Homo sapiens: one gene and its partners. The protein of the gene in region 2 interacts with the protein of the main gene of each other region in a pairwise test. Each region holds a gene or a part of one and is shown on either strand. Other genes may lie near its edges.

Region 1 (3,251 bases), on a different chromosome or scaffold from region 2:
AGCAAATTGTCCACCTGTAGGTACAAAAGTAAAAGACTGAAAATATTTACTAAATCAAAGAGATTTTTGCCCTAGGAAGGTTAACTAATAAGAGACTTTTTTTCCTAGGGTTTAAAAAATGTTAAATCACATTTTATGACAGTCAATTTTATATCCTAATGGAATCTCTTCTGGTAGTGAGAGAAGTTCCAGATTTTTCGTTGTAAAAATAGTCATATAATGGTCTAATATCCAGTTCTGTCACATTTTCTCATTACCTATCCCTCACAGGACTTTCCCTCAAGTCCCTACCTGTCCCCTCTGCCCCACACTCTGGCCCGGAGCCAGAGGATTGGCTCTGGGGCAGCAGGAACCTGTTGTTTTAGGAGATGGTGACCTTCGAGGATGTGGCTGTGCACTTCACCAAGACAGAATGGACTGGCCTTTCTCCTGCCCAGAGGGCCCTGTACAGAAGTGTGATGTTGGAGAATTTTGGGAACCTGACTGCTTTGGGTAAGGCCATTTTCCTCCTAGGACTCAGATCTGTACTTTTCCAGTTTCCTTCCTTCTTTTACAGCCTGGGGGGAGGAGTGTGGAGTGGAGAGGAGAGGTTGTCTCTTGTGTCCTCCACTGAGTGACTGCAGAGCTGAGGCTCAGTGACCAACTTCAAAGATTGCTGGGTAGGGAGAGGTCTTGGGTCACTTTGGTCTCCCAATGAAGGGAATTACTGTCCCCTGGTAAGAGTATGTTCCATCTTCCAAGAGGCTCTGCACAGTAAGGAATAAGTAGTAGTTGTTGTCTGGGGAAGGGCATGTCCCCTTCCCTGTGTTTGCTCATGCCTTGTGGATCTCACTGACTTACTTATCCTTGAGTGTTTTTTTTAGGAAGAAGTCACAAATGCTCAGTTTCCTGTTGATCGGAATCTCTTTGGCCTTCTCCAGTCGAGAACCCTCTTCTGTGGGTCTTATTCTTACTGAGACTCCTGGGGTTTTCCTTCTTTTGACACAGCAGATACAGGGCTGAAAAGTACCATTTTCTTCCTGTTTTCAGGGTACCCAGTTCCCAAACCTGCACTGATCTCACTTTTGGAGAGAGGGGACATGGCTTGGGGCCTGGAAGCACAGGATGATCCCCCAGCAGAGAGGACCAAAAACGTCTGTAAAGGTAGGTGAGGCAGATTTAGAACCAACAATTGTAGCGTTTTATGGAGCACTGTATTTTAAAATGAATCATGCTGGGCAGGATTTAAATAAAATAGATGATTTCACCTAATAGGTAAAATATGAAACGTTTCTCACCAATCTTAACTCTTACCAACATGTAATCACTCAGTACGTCTCATCTGCAATCCTTGAATCCATTGTTCCTTTCTGAGTTTCAACATTGCCTACCTTAGTTGTCCTCCTTGGTTGGGATGGATTTATTCAGGAGCAGTTTTTGAGCAACTTGCCATGTGCTGAACGTTGTTTAAGAAGTTCTGGCAGGTACAAGTTATGGAGACAGATGTAAAAAGCGAAAAAGAAAAGTATTAAGTGCTGTTGGGAGTGGGACGGAGAATGTGAAGGTAAAATGGGCCAGATCTTCCCAAAAGTTGGCCATAAATGGGGAGAGCTGAGTCAGATAACACTAGGAAGTCATGGCATGGGAGGAGCTTTTTGAATTCATAGGAATTCAGAGCTGAGCACAGGGCGTGAGGTGCCTTTAGAATAGGCAAGTGGATGGCTAGAGCAGGCCATTGAGAAGGTGGGTGGAGAGTCTGAGATAAAAGGCAGGTCTGAAACAGTACTCTAACACAGCTGGGTTGAAACGATCCCCAGGAAGAAAAAATGAAGGCTGAATCTTAACCATTAAGGGATATTTAATTTCAGTGAGAGAAGGAAGAGAAAGTAGACAGTCAAATAGATGGGGGCCACCAAGAGCAAACAGTGAAATTGAAGGCAGAGGCAGGAGTTTCAGTGCAGGTGGTTTGCAGAGAGCAAATACGTGGAAAATAATGAAGCTAGCACAGCACTTCAGCCTCTTATTCTAAGAATCTGAAAAAGAATCATCAAGACAATTGAGAACCTGTTGGTTTGTTCTCACACGCTTCCTCTGTCTGGTGATTATTCTTTTTCAGACTCTTGGTTACCTTGTTTACTTCAATCTCAGATTACTCTCCTCTGAACATTCTCCTTCGGAGTTCCCTTACTCCTTTAACTCACACTCATAGGATGAACTTGATTAACCATCACATGAGTCCCAGGTAACCCACATTAATGTTAAAACCAAGCCCATCATTTCATATAAAATGGATTGACTTTAACTCATTTAAAATGTCATCCAATCTTTTGGAACACAAATGCCATTTTATGGGCTGTTTGTCTCCTTTTTGCTGATAGGAGAAAGAATACTCTCAGTCTGGGTGTGTCTAAGTAAACTGTTCATCCCTTTTCAAATAGAGAGTCTAGGACAGTAGTTTCTCTGCATGTTTGAGGTTCAGCAGTTTTAGGGCGTTTCCTCATCGTCTATAGTCCATGTGTGGTTCTGCAGTTAAGAACCTCTGAACTAGGTAATCTTACAACATATTGGGAATAATACTCTCTAAGCACTTCTGTGATTTTCTTTCTCTCTGTCTTGCCACAACCCAGTGTCTGTAATGTTCAGTGTCTTAAGTCTTTTGGGACATCTGCAGGGTATGAGTTTTTAAAAAGAACAACAATTCATCCTTTGCCTTTGCTTTCTGATACTGTTCTGTTTCACTTTCTGATTCTAAGTCTTGCCAGCCCCGATGTCACTACTTGTTCTTAAGACCTGTGCCTTCTTTGGCATTTTGTAGGCTGTAAGTAGCATCAATTCAAAAGATACTAGCTCATGCCAGGGATGACCAGACATCATTCAAATATTAGAGTAGAAAAGCTTAGGAAGCAGTCTCGTGTGTTGTGTCCACTGATACCCTGTTCCACCTCAATGTTCTCTGCCTGTGTGATATTTGGCACTTTCACTTTAACAGCCTTTTCTTCCCAGCATGCTGATGTGAAAGTTGAAATGATCTCTTTTAAAGCCTTATCATTTTCAATGCTCTATTATTTCTAGTATAGTTCTCAGGTGGCATTATTTGTGTTTTCTATCTCTTATGTCAGATGTTGAGACCAACATTGACAGTGAGTCCACATTAATCCAGGGAATTTCTGAAGAAAGAGATGGGATGATGTCACATGGTCAGCTGAAGAGTGTCCCTCAGAGAACTGACTTCCCAGAAACACGTAATGTGGAAAAGCACCAGGACATCCCCA
Region 2 (3,630 bases):
TTCTACTAATGGTACCCTTTGAACCACAATGGCTAGGAAAAGCATATCTGAAGTTGAGGTGCTCAGAGAGCTGATATTACTTCACTGCTTGCCAAGTGAATGATTTGGCAGCGGGAGGGACAGCACCCTGCGATTTGTCTGTCTTCAGGGGCCTAGCGCAGTTCTTTTCTCTTAAAGGACACTTGTCATCTCTCATTAAGATTCCAAGTGAATCAGCTTTGAGAGAAGAACGATCTTTAGGAGTTTGTGGCGAGGGAGTAGATGGCAGCACATGTTAAGAGAAGGATGGGGGAAGGGGGAGGAGGAGGAGGGGGGAGGAGGGGAGGAAGAGGAGGGGGTGAGGAGGAGGAGGGGGAGGAGAAGGCGGAGGAGGAGGGTAGGGGGAGGTGGAGGAGGAGAGGTGGGGGAGGAGGAGGAGGAGGAGGACAGCGAGAATATCTTCTGGTCCTAGAAGCTTGGCAGCCTTTCTTCGGCATCTTGTTCTGCCGAGTGACTGTCATTCTGGGCAGATCCCCATGTGAGAACATTGGGTACCTACAGAATGGAACCGGTGTCATAAGCAACTCTTTGTTCGGGTTATTGCTCCCTTGAGTGCTCTAAGGCCTCCAGACAGTCTCCATGGAAAAGTCTGCAAAAAGCCGCCCTCCCTGCCCATAGAAGGTGAAGTGTCATCAACCTGCCAAATATAATTTTATGTAAAAGGACAAGAAGTCTCATAGTCTTAATGGGATTACATGGCAAAAGTGCCAGAATCATGGCAAATGGTAAAAAGGAAGCATTTTGTAAAATCCCACGGAGGCATGTTTACCAGTTTGTGAAAGAGGGGTGGCTAGGCAGGGCGCAGTGGCTCACACCTGTAATCCCAGTACTTTGGGAGGCTGAGGCAGGCATATCACCTGAGGTCAGGAGTTCGAGACCAGCCTGGCTAACCGATGAAACCCCATCTCTACTAAAAATACAAAAATTGGCCTGGCACAGTGGCTCATGCCTGTAATCCCAAAGGCCAAGGCGGGCGAATCATGAGGTCAGGAGATCGAGACCATCCTGGCTAACATGGTGAAACCCCGTCTCTACTAAAAATATAAAAAATTAGCCGGGCGTGGTGGCACGTGTCTGTAGTCCCAGCTACTCAGGAGGCTGAGGCAGGAGAATCGCTTTAATCCGGGAGGCAGAGGTTGCAGGGAGCCAAGATCGTGCCATTGCACTCCAGCCTGGGCAACAGAGCGAGACTCTGTTTCAAAAAAGAAAAAAGAGGAGTGGCTAATCTCTGATCTGAACAGGCCAGCACTGCCCTGTCTTGTCATAGGCTGCAGCCTCACTTGTTTACATTCTTTCTTTTTTGAGACAGAGTCTCACTCTGTTGCCCACGCTGGAGTGCAGTGGAATGATTTTGGGTCACTGCAACCTCCACCTCCCGGATTCAAGCAATTCTCCTGCCTCAGCCTCCCAAGTAGCTGGGATTACAGGCATGTGCCACCACACCTGGCTAAATTTTGTATTTTCAGTAGAGGTTTTGCCATGTTGGCCAAACCTCCTGACCTCAAGTGATCCTCCCGCCTCAGCCTCCCAAAGTGCTGGGATTACAGACGTGAGCCACTAAGCCACTACGCCCGGCCAACATCCTCACTTGTTTGCAGTATTGAATCTTTTCCTATACCCTTGTGACCACAGAAAAATTCAAGTTTTCTGGGCTCTCTGAAAAATCAGAATGGACTTTGACATGAGGTGGTTTTATTTTCTCTTACTAGTAATTGAGAAATTCACAGAAAATACCAGATTCTGCCTCATCTGTAACTATCTGTCAAAGATCATCCCTGCCTTGCAGTCCCGCTGCACGAGGTTTCGGTTCGGTCCCCTGACTCCTGAACTCATGGTTCCCCGCCTGGAACATGTCGTGGAAGAAGAGAAGTGAGTATTTTGCGGGCCTTTGGGGATGGAGTGTAGTAGAAACAGGCTTGTGGGATCACTGGCTGGTTCGTATGTAGAGGAGAGGAATGTTGGAAAACGACTTTGCAGAGTGCCTAGCACAGGGGAGGCACTGGGGACCGTCCACTGCTATCATTTTCTCTGCTGTCTCAAGGCCATTCCTCATAAAAGTCATTTGGTACTTCATTTTTCTTGATTCCATCCTCCTCCCCTGGAAGCTGTCCCAATTTCCTCCTACTCTTCTTTGTCATTGGAAACTGCAGGCTGCTGAGTCCCTTCTGCAAAGATGCTTCCAGCCTTTTTAGACTAGAAGGGAAGGTTCTAAGACATCACATTCTGTGTAGTCAGATGCCAAGCAAGTAGCCGACCTGAGCAGCTGCTTGTTGTGAAGGAGGAGTTTCGGCTGTGTGATCATGGCTTGTGCCAGGCCTCTGTCCTCCCCAGAGAGCAGAATTCAAGACGACTGGCTCCATGGGAGAATGCTTGTTCCTAAATTCAGGCTGTTCTCGATTTTGGTTGGCTGTGACTACTAATGTGAAGCCCAGGTCCCTAAAAACCAGAGTGAATTCTAGATCATATAGATCAGGAGATTATTAACTCTGTTCCTCTCCTTCCTTCATCCCTTTAAAGCCTTAATCATTCCAGGCCATCTTGTTCCTTTGGTGAATGCTGGTGCTCTCAGGGGGCCTCATAAATCCCTTTTGCTTATTTCTTTCAGAGTTGATATAAGTGAAGATGGAATGAAAGCACTAGTCACTCTTTCCAGTGGAGACATGCGTAGGGCTCTGAACATTTTGCAGGTATGGTCTCAAGCAAATCCTTTTTTTTTTTTTTTTTTGAGACAGAGTCTTGCTCTGTCGCTCAGGCTGGAGTGCAGCAACACAATCTCAGCTCACTGCAACCTCCGCCTCCTGGGTTCAAGCGAATCTCCTGCCTCCTGAGCAGCTGGGATTACAGGTGCCCGCCACCACGCCCTACTAATTTTTGTATTTTTAGTAGAGATGGGGTTTCGCCATGTTGGTTAGGCTGGTCTCGAACTCCTGACCTCAAATGATCCATCTGCCTCAGCTTCCTAAAGTGCTGGGATTACAGGCATGAGCCACCATGCCCAGCCTGGTCCCAGCAAATCCTGAGTCATTGTTTTGTAATAGTTTTTGAAGAAAGACCTAAGCAAAGGCATGATCAATCTGTAAATTTTGAAATCTACAGCTGGTAAGACCTTGGTCTCATAACCTGCAGGATTCCCCCTCCTCACTTTGTATTTTGATTAATTGAAAAAATCACTTGTTGCAGGCCAGGTATGGTGGCTCACGCCTGTAATCCCAGCACTTAGGGATGCCGAGGGAGGTGGATTGCCTGAGCCCACGAGCTGGAGACCAGCCTGGGCAACATAGTGAGACTCTGTCTCCACTAAAAAATCATGAGCCAGGTGTGGCGGTGCACACCTGTAGTCCCATCTACTCAGGAGGCTGAGGCAGGAGGGTGACTTGAGCCTAGGAGGTCGAGGCTACAGTGAGCCATGATCATGCCACTGCACTTCAGCCTGAGCAACAGAGCAAGACCCTGTCTCAAAAAACAAAGAGAGAGCAAAAGAAAATGTTTTAAAAACAAAAGGAATCATTTGTTGCAAAGAAGGCAAAGGGAGGGAAGGATTTGGCACTGGAATAGCCAACAGGCTGTGGCATCCTCTGATGAGGTGACTCT
Region 3 (3,630 bases), on a different chromosome or scaffold from region 2:
AATGCAAAGTTGTTATTTACTTATCTCTTTTAGACAGGGTCTCACTCTGTCACCCAGGCTGGAGTGCAATGGCCCCATCATGGCTCCCTGCAGCCTTAAATTCCTGGGCTTAAGCAATCCTCCCACGTCAGCTTCCCCAGTAGCTGGGACCACAGGCAAGCACTGCCACGTCTGGCTAATTTTTTAAAAATTTTTTGTAGAAACACTATCTCTTTATTTTGTTCAGGCTGGTCTTGAACTCCTGGGCTCAAGCAGTCCTCTCGCCTCGGCCTTCTAAAGTGTTGGGATTACAGGCATGAACCACCATCTCCGGCCTGAAGTTTATTTAATCCATTGCCTTGTGGACTGGGCATTGAAGTTGTGTGTAGTTGGGTTTTTTTGTTGTTGTTGCTGTTGCAGACAATACTACTGTGAACATTCTTATCCATGCTTCCTTGTGTCCCGTAAATGTTCCCTCCAGGGAGATACCTTGGAGTGACATGCTGGTGTGAGGGATGCATATCATAATTTTACCAGATACTACAGATCTTGAAATTGTTCCAATTCTACCCCACAAGCAATATAAGAGCTCTCACTCCTCCAAAACTCCCTGAGTCTTTACTTATATAATTTATGATTTTGACAGTCTTACAGATTTAAAATGGTACCTAATTGTGTACTTAATTTGTGCTTTTCTGATTTCACTAGTGAGATTGAGATTCTTTTTGTATGTCCATTAGCCCTTCAGGCCTCTGTGATTTACCCATGATTTACTGTGGTTTAATAATTTTTATTGGGTTCTTTTCCTTATTGATTTATGGGAACTTATTATAGCTGATATCTTCTGGCATGTGGATGGCATTTTGCATTTTCATCCTGTTTTTTGATAAATAGGGTTTCAAAATTAAGTAGACACATTTTCCTTCAAGGTCTGTGTCTTTTATGTCCAAAGAGCTTAGTCATCAGTGGGCAGTGAATTTTATCACCTAATTAATTTTATTAGCCCCGTGTGCTATGCCTGTAGTTCCAGCTACTGGGGAGACTAGGGCAGGAGGATCTCCTGAGCCCAGGAGTTCGAGGCTGCAGTAAGCTATGATCACGCCACTGTACCCAGCCTGGGCAACAGAGCTAGACCCTGTCTATTAAAGGAGGAGGCCGGGTACAGTGGCTTACGCCTGTAATCCCAGCACATTGGGAGGCCGAGGCAGGAGGATCACTTGAGGGCAGGAGTTTGAGACCAGCCTGGCCAGCATTGTGAAACCCTATCTCTACTAAAAATACAAAAATTAGCCAGGTGTGGTGGTGTGCACTTGCAGTCCTAGCTACTCTGGAGGCTTAGGCAGAATTGCTTGAACCCAGAAGGCAGAGGTTGCAGTGAGCTGAGATTGTGCCACTGCACTCCAGCTTGAGCGACAGAGTAAGACTCCATCTCAAAAAAAAAAAGAAGAGAGATGAAGGAGGAGGAGGAAGAGAAAGAGGTGGGGGAGGGGAAGGAAGAGAAAGAAGAAGAAAGGGACAAAAAAATTTAGCTGTCATCTTTGCTCTGATAGCATTATAATGATGATGAAGACAATTGCTAGGTTGGTGAGAGAAGGCTATATACACACCAGAACTCTCCACGTATATGGCAAGTTCATATATTTTGTTAAGTATGTCTCATTGGAGACCTTCTTTTCCCGTAACTATGACCAGTGCTCTGCCAGCTCAGTCAACAACAACATTGCATGTTGGCTCCATACCTGGACTCTTGGTCCAATTGGTAATGAAACCATCCCACCAGTGTCTTCATAATATATATATACACACACACATATATATATAGTATTCTCTCCCAGTGTCTTCATAATATATATATATACACATACACACATATATTATATTCTCTCTATACATATTTATTTATATATCTATATCTATATCCTTCCACCTCAGGTCTCCCTCTGTCTCCCAGGCTGAGTGGTGCAGTAGTGCGATTATGGCTCAACCAATGAGAGGATCAATGGCAATCCTCTCATTTCAGCCTCCCCAGTAGCTGGGACTACAGGCATGGGCCACCACATCTGGCTGATGTTTAAATTTTTTTGAGACAGCATCTCTATATGCTATAGATATATATAGTATCCTCTCTCTAATATGGATAGAGGATACTATGTCTATATCTGTATCTATCTATCTATGGAGAAGGAATACTATATATCTAATAAGATGTAATCTATATTATATATAAAAGTGAAGCATTGATTGGTACATATAATATATATATTGATTACTGTGTGTATATATTTGTTTTTTCGAGACAGGCTCTCACTCTGTTGCCCAAGCCGAGTGGTACAGTGGTGCGATCATGGCTCCACCACCTGAGCTAAAGTGATCTTCTCACCTCAGCCTCCCCAGTTGCTGGGACTACAGGAACAGGCCACCATACCTGGCTAATTTTTTAATTTTTTTTTGAGACAGGGTCTCCCTTTGCCACCCAGGCTGGAGTGCACTGGCGCAATCTCGACTCACTGCAATCTCCACCTCCCAGGCTCAAGTGATCCTCTCACCTCAGCTTCCCGAGTAGCTGGGACTATTGGTGTGCACCACAATGCCTGGATAATTTTTCATATTTTTTGTAGAGATGGAATTTGGCCATATTGACCAGGCTGGTCTCAAACTCTTGGACTCAAGTGATTGACCCGCCTCAGCCTCCCAACGTGCTGGGATTACAGGCATGAGTCACTGTGCCTGGCCTGATTATTGTACACATTTTTGATGTAATGTATTATATATGTCATATATGACAATCTAGATGAATATATTAAAGATTGGGTTTTCATTTATATATTGTAAAATACATACACTATACATATATAATATGTAGAACATATGCTATACATATTATATATGTATATGTTAACATATATAATACATACACATATAATATGTATAGTTGCAAATATAAAATTTGGTTTGTTATTTATATTATTTTGTGCAGGAGTTCTATATCTATGTCTATAAGCGGGAGCCATAATTTTCTATTCTTTGTAGGATTTGGTATGAGATTGGCATTACTCATGCCTTGACTTCTAAATTTCCTATAAAACTGACAAGTTCCATTTTTGCTTGATAAAGATGCACGTTTTATTATCTGTCGGTAAAATTTAAAGTAGTGATTTCATTTCTTTAATGTTAGGTCTGCCCATGCTTTATTTGTTTTTTGAGTGAGTTTTACTCAGAAATATTTTTTCTAGGAAGTAATAATTTTATCAGTACTTTCAATTTTATTAGTAGCATAAGATTTATTATAAAGTTCTGTAATATTTAAAAAGTTTCTGTATTCATTCCATTTGTGCCTTCTGTCTTACTTTGATAAATCTCATTGGAGGTATGTCTATTTTATTAAATTTCTTTTAAAAGAAGCTACCTTTTTTTTTGTTTGTTTTTCCTCTTTATTGCATTCTTGTTTTCTTTAACTTCACTGTTATATTGTTTAATATCTATTTTTTCTTTTTAAAAAATTATATTTGGCTTTCTATGTTCTTTTTAAAATTTAAATTAGATGCTTGGCTCATTAATGTTCAGCTTTTTAATTTTTCTAAGATAAGCATTTAAAGCCTACAAATTTTCCTTAAAATTCTGCTTTAGCTTCATTGTATATTTTTATAAATA
Region 4 (3,630 bases), on a different chromosome or scaffold from region 2:
TAAGCTCTTGACCATCCTCCCTCCAAAAAGATGAGAATTCTCCTACTGCTAAAAAAACTTAAACGTTTACTTATTTTTGACGCATTTAAGATCCTTTTGATCTTTAAGATATTTCAAGTGCTTTTGAAACACTATTCAGATAATCGTATAAGTTATGAAACAGTATGAACATTAATGATATTTAAAATTATATTCATTGATGTAAGAATCAATGGAAAGCTTCCAATTTTTTCCTTATAGATGCATTTATTTAAAACTTACACAAGCTCCACTTATCTTGGTGGTGGTAAAATAAACCCTTTAATTGTCATCTTTCTTTCTTTTTTTAATTTTTTATTTGTTTTAAGACGGAGTCTCACTCTGTCGCCCAGGCTGGAGTGCAATGGCACGATCTTGGCTCACTGCAACCTCCGCCTCCCCAGCTCAAGCGATTCTCCTGCCTCACCCTCCCGAGTAGCTGGAATTACAGGCATGTGCCACCACGCCCGGCTAATTTTTTGTATTTTCAGTAGAGACAGGGTTTCGCCAAGTTGGCCGGGCTGGAATTTTTCTACTATAACAGAAACACAAGCAATTGTGTCATTTTTTTCCTGCATCTTAAACACGCGCTTAATTGTTTGGCCATAAATTGTTAGTTTTCAAACCTTAATGTATCTGCAGCAGAAGGGTTTAGCAGGTTGTAATAGGAAGAGATCAAGAGACTGTGCATTAGGGAGAGTGTCTTTTCTCTATCTAACAGGAGTCAATGGGCGCTCATATTATCACTGAGACTACAAACTAGGATGGTGTGGGAAGGAGAGCCTAAGGGTTGGAATTCATTTGAACTCTCCTCAGTCTCACTAAATTGAGAGGCAAGTAATTGATACAGGCTCTCTACTCATGCTGGGACTGCTGCCTATTTGTCTTCCCAAAAGCTGATGAGGAAAGACTGGCACTAAGAATCTTTTAATTTTATATAAAATAAGGATGGGGCTAACTGAAGTGAAGCAGGTGAGGGTTATTAGAGAAAATATAACATTGTCACTTACTGAGAAATCCTAGATTTAGTGCTAAACTTTTTTGCCAATGGCTGTGTAACAGAGAATGCCCTAGTAAAAGGTCTTGTAAAAATAGTACCGAATCAGTATCTTTTTTTCTTTCTTTGAAAAAATTATGTAGTGTAAGATAAAGCCCTTTATTTAGTATATGTACTAAAGTACTTATTTTAATCTTTATGTGTATATATATTACTGTATATAATATAAAAATCAAATAACCCATATTCATTTCTTATCTGTCTTTCCATATGAATCTGCTCTAATAGTAAAATGAATAACATCAGTTTATTCTAGAAGAGGTTTTAAATAATTACAAATATTAGCAAATAACATCAAAAGTTATCTAGCCTTTATTGCTCATGTGCCAGTAACCTTCTGACCTAGAAGAGGGCTTTGTGGGGAGGAGAAGGGGAAAGGCGCTGTAGAGAAGTATGTAGAATCCAGTAGTTACCTTTAAGCCAAGAGGGAAGTAATTGCCAGTGGTAAACTACTGGTCTGAGGGGAAAAGATCTATGCCCAGAATATCACCATCTCAAGTTAGTGGCTTTATACAAGGATGAAATAATATAGAAAAAAATGAGATGATATGGTATCACAAACAATCAGAACCAAAGGAACCTTAAAGATTATTTTATAATTTTTTTTTTTTTTTTTTTTTTTTGGAGACGGAGTTTCACTTTTGTTGCCCAGGCTGGAATGCAATGGTGCAATCTTGGCTCACTGCAACCTCCACCTCCCGGGTTCAAGCAATTCTCCTGCCTCAGCCTCCTGAGTAGCTGGGATTATAGGCATGTGCCACCACACCCTGTTAATTTTGTATTTTTAGTAGAGACGGGGTTTCTCCATGTTGGTCAGGCCGGTCTCCAACTTCCAACCTCAGGTGATCTGCCCGCCTCGGCCTCATAAAGTGCTGGGATTACAGGCATGAACCACTGCACCCAGCCCATTTTATAACTTTTATGACCTTAATTGGGAACCTGAAGTACAGATGGGCTGTTGCCTAGGATCACGCCGATAGTTGGGAATAGAATTCAGATTTCCTGACTTCTGGTCCAGTGTTTTGGGGTTTGTTTCAGTTTTTTTTTTTGTTTTGTTTTTTGTTTTTTTTAGATTTTAAAAAATTGTGATAAAATACACATACAGTTTACCATCTTAACCATTTTTAGTGTATGGTTCCGTAGTGTTAAGTACATTTACATTGTTGCACAGTCAACCTCCAGAACTCTTCATCTTGCAAAACCGAAACTCTACATCCATTAAACAGCCAGGCGTGGTGGCACACGCCTGTAGTTCCAGCTGCTTGGGAGGCTGAGGCAGGAGGATTGCTTGAGACCAGGAGCTCAAGGCTGCAATGAGCTGTGATTGCACCACTGCTCTCCAGCCTGGGATACAGAGCAAGACCCTATCTTTAAAAAATAATAATAATAATAAAAACATGTTCATTAAACAACTCCCCATTCCCTCTCTTCCCAACCCCTGGCAACTACCATTTTACTTTTTGTCTCTATAAATTTGACTACTCTAGGTGTCAGTATTGTTGTTGCTTTGTTTGTTTGTTTGTTTCTTCCTTTTTGTGGAGAACGGGGTCTCACTATATTGCTCAGGCAGGTCTCGAACTCCTGGGCTCAAGCTATCCTCCCGCCTCTGCCTCCCTGAGAGCTGGGATTATAGGCGTGAGCCACCGCGCCCAGCCTGTTTGTTTGTTTTTAACTCGTTGTAGCATTACATCTAAAAGTAATGTGGAAATTACTTGTTCTCCTTTTGATTTTTTTGGCATGAAATACACACTTCATTCTGACTTTTTTTGGTGTTGATGCTTTCTTATAATATAAATCAGCTTATAGTGCCGTTTCTTTACTTGTATTTTTTCCTCTGCCTTGAGTACGTTTTCTCTATCTGTATACCTAGTCCCATTCCCCACTCTACCCCCAACTCCCTGAATCTACTTTGTGAACTCATGTTTCAAGGTTCAGCTCAGAAGTCACTTCTTTCAAGTTTTCTCCCGCACCCACAGCAGAGTTAGGAGCTCCTTCTTATCTACTCCTGGTGCTGGTAGAGTTTTGTTTTGTTTTATTTTGTTTTGTTTTGTTTTTCTTGAGACAGGGTCTCGCTCTGTCGCCCAGGCTGGAGTGCAGTGGCACACAATCTCAGCTCACTGCAACCTCTATCTCTCAGGTTCAAGCGATTCTGCTGCCTCAGCCTCCCGAGTAGCTGGGATTACAGGCATGCGCCACCACACCCAGCTAATTTTTTTTGTGTGTATTTTTAGTAGAGATGGGGTTTCACCATGTTGGCCAGGCTAGTCTTGAACTCCTGACCTCAAATGATCTGCCCGCCTCAGCCTCCCAAAGTGCTGGGATTACAGGCGTGAGCCACCAGGCCTGGCTGAGCATTTTGCTTTTTACACTATTTTGGGACTGGTTTCTGCCCTGCCCATTAGACCAAGCTTCTTAAGGGTAAGTGCTTTATCTTCTTATCTCTGATGCATTCCATGTTTGAGCCTATAGTTTTTATTATGCCCAAGAGGGTACTTTTTAAGAAGAAAGAGATTAAACAATCCTTTCCTCTACCCCCTAGCCAGAGAAACCTTTCT

What was found. The genes of interacting proteins can lie anywhere in the genome.
Region 1: the proteins of RFC5 (region 2) and ZNF19 interact in binary tests that used the Homo sapiens proteins (3 or more experiments, as listed by UniProt).
Region 3: the proteins of RFC5 (region 2) and TRIM38 interact in binary tests that used the Homo sapiens proteins (3 or more experiments, as listed by UniProt).
Region 4: the proteins of RFC5 (region 2) and XIAP interact in binary tests that used the Homo sapiens proteins (3 or more experiments, as listed by UniProt).

Annotation. Positions count from the first base shown.
Region 1 is NC_000016.10:71,476,120-71,479,370, reverse strand, and holds part of ZNF19 (zinc finger protein 19), read left to right. Parts: intron 1-365; coding exon 366-492; intron 493-1,029; coding exon 1,030-1,143; intron 1,144-3,098; coding exon 3,099-3,251. UniProt on the Homo sapiens protein: May be involved in transcriptional regulation.
Region 2 is NC_000012.12:118,023,103-118,026,732, forward strand, and holds part of RFC5 (replication factor C subunit 5), read left to right. Parts: intron 1-1,748; coding exon 1,749-1,908; exon of another isoform or gene 1,909-1,912; intron 1,913-2,644; coding exon 2,645-2,726; intron 2,727-3,630. UniProt on the Homo sapiens protein: Subunit of the replication factor C (RFC) complex which acts during elongation of primed DNA templates by DNA polymerases delta and epsilon, and is necessary for ATP-dependent loading of proliferating cell nuclear antigen (PCNA) onto primed DNA.
Region 3 is NC_000006.12:25,976,256-25,979,885, forward strand, and holds part of TRIM38 (E3 ubiquitin-protein ligase TRIM38), read left to right. Parts: exon of another isoform or gene 1-1,840; intron 1,841-3,630. UniProt on the Homo sapiens protein: E3 ubiquitin-protein and E3 SUMO-protein ligase that acts as a regulator of innate immunity. Acts as a negative regulator of type I interferon IFN-beta production by catalyzing 'Lys-48'-linked polyubiquitination of AZI2/NAP1, leading to its degradation.
Region 4 is NC_000023.11:123,901,507-123,905,136, forward strand, and holds part of XIAP (E3 ubiquitin-protein ligase XIAP), read left to right. Parts: intron 1-3,630.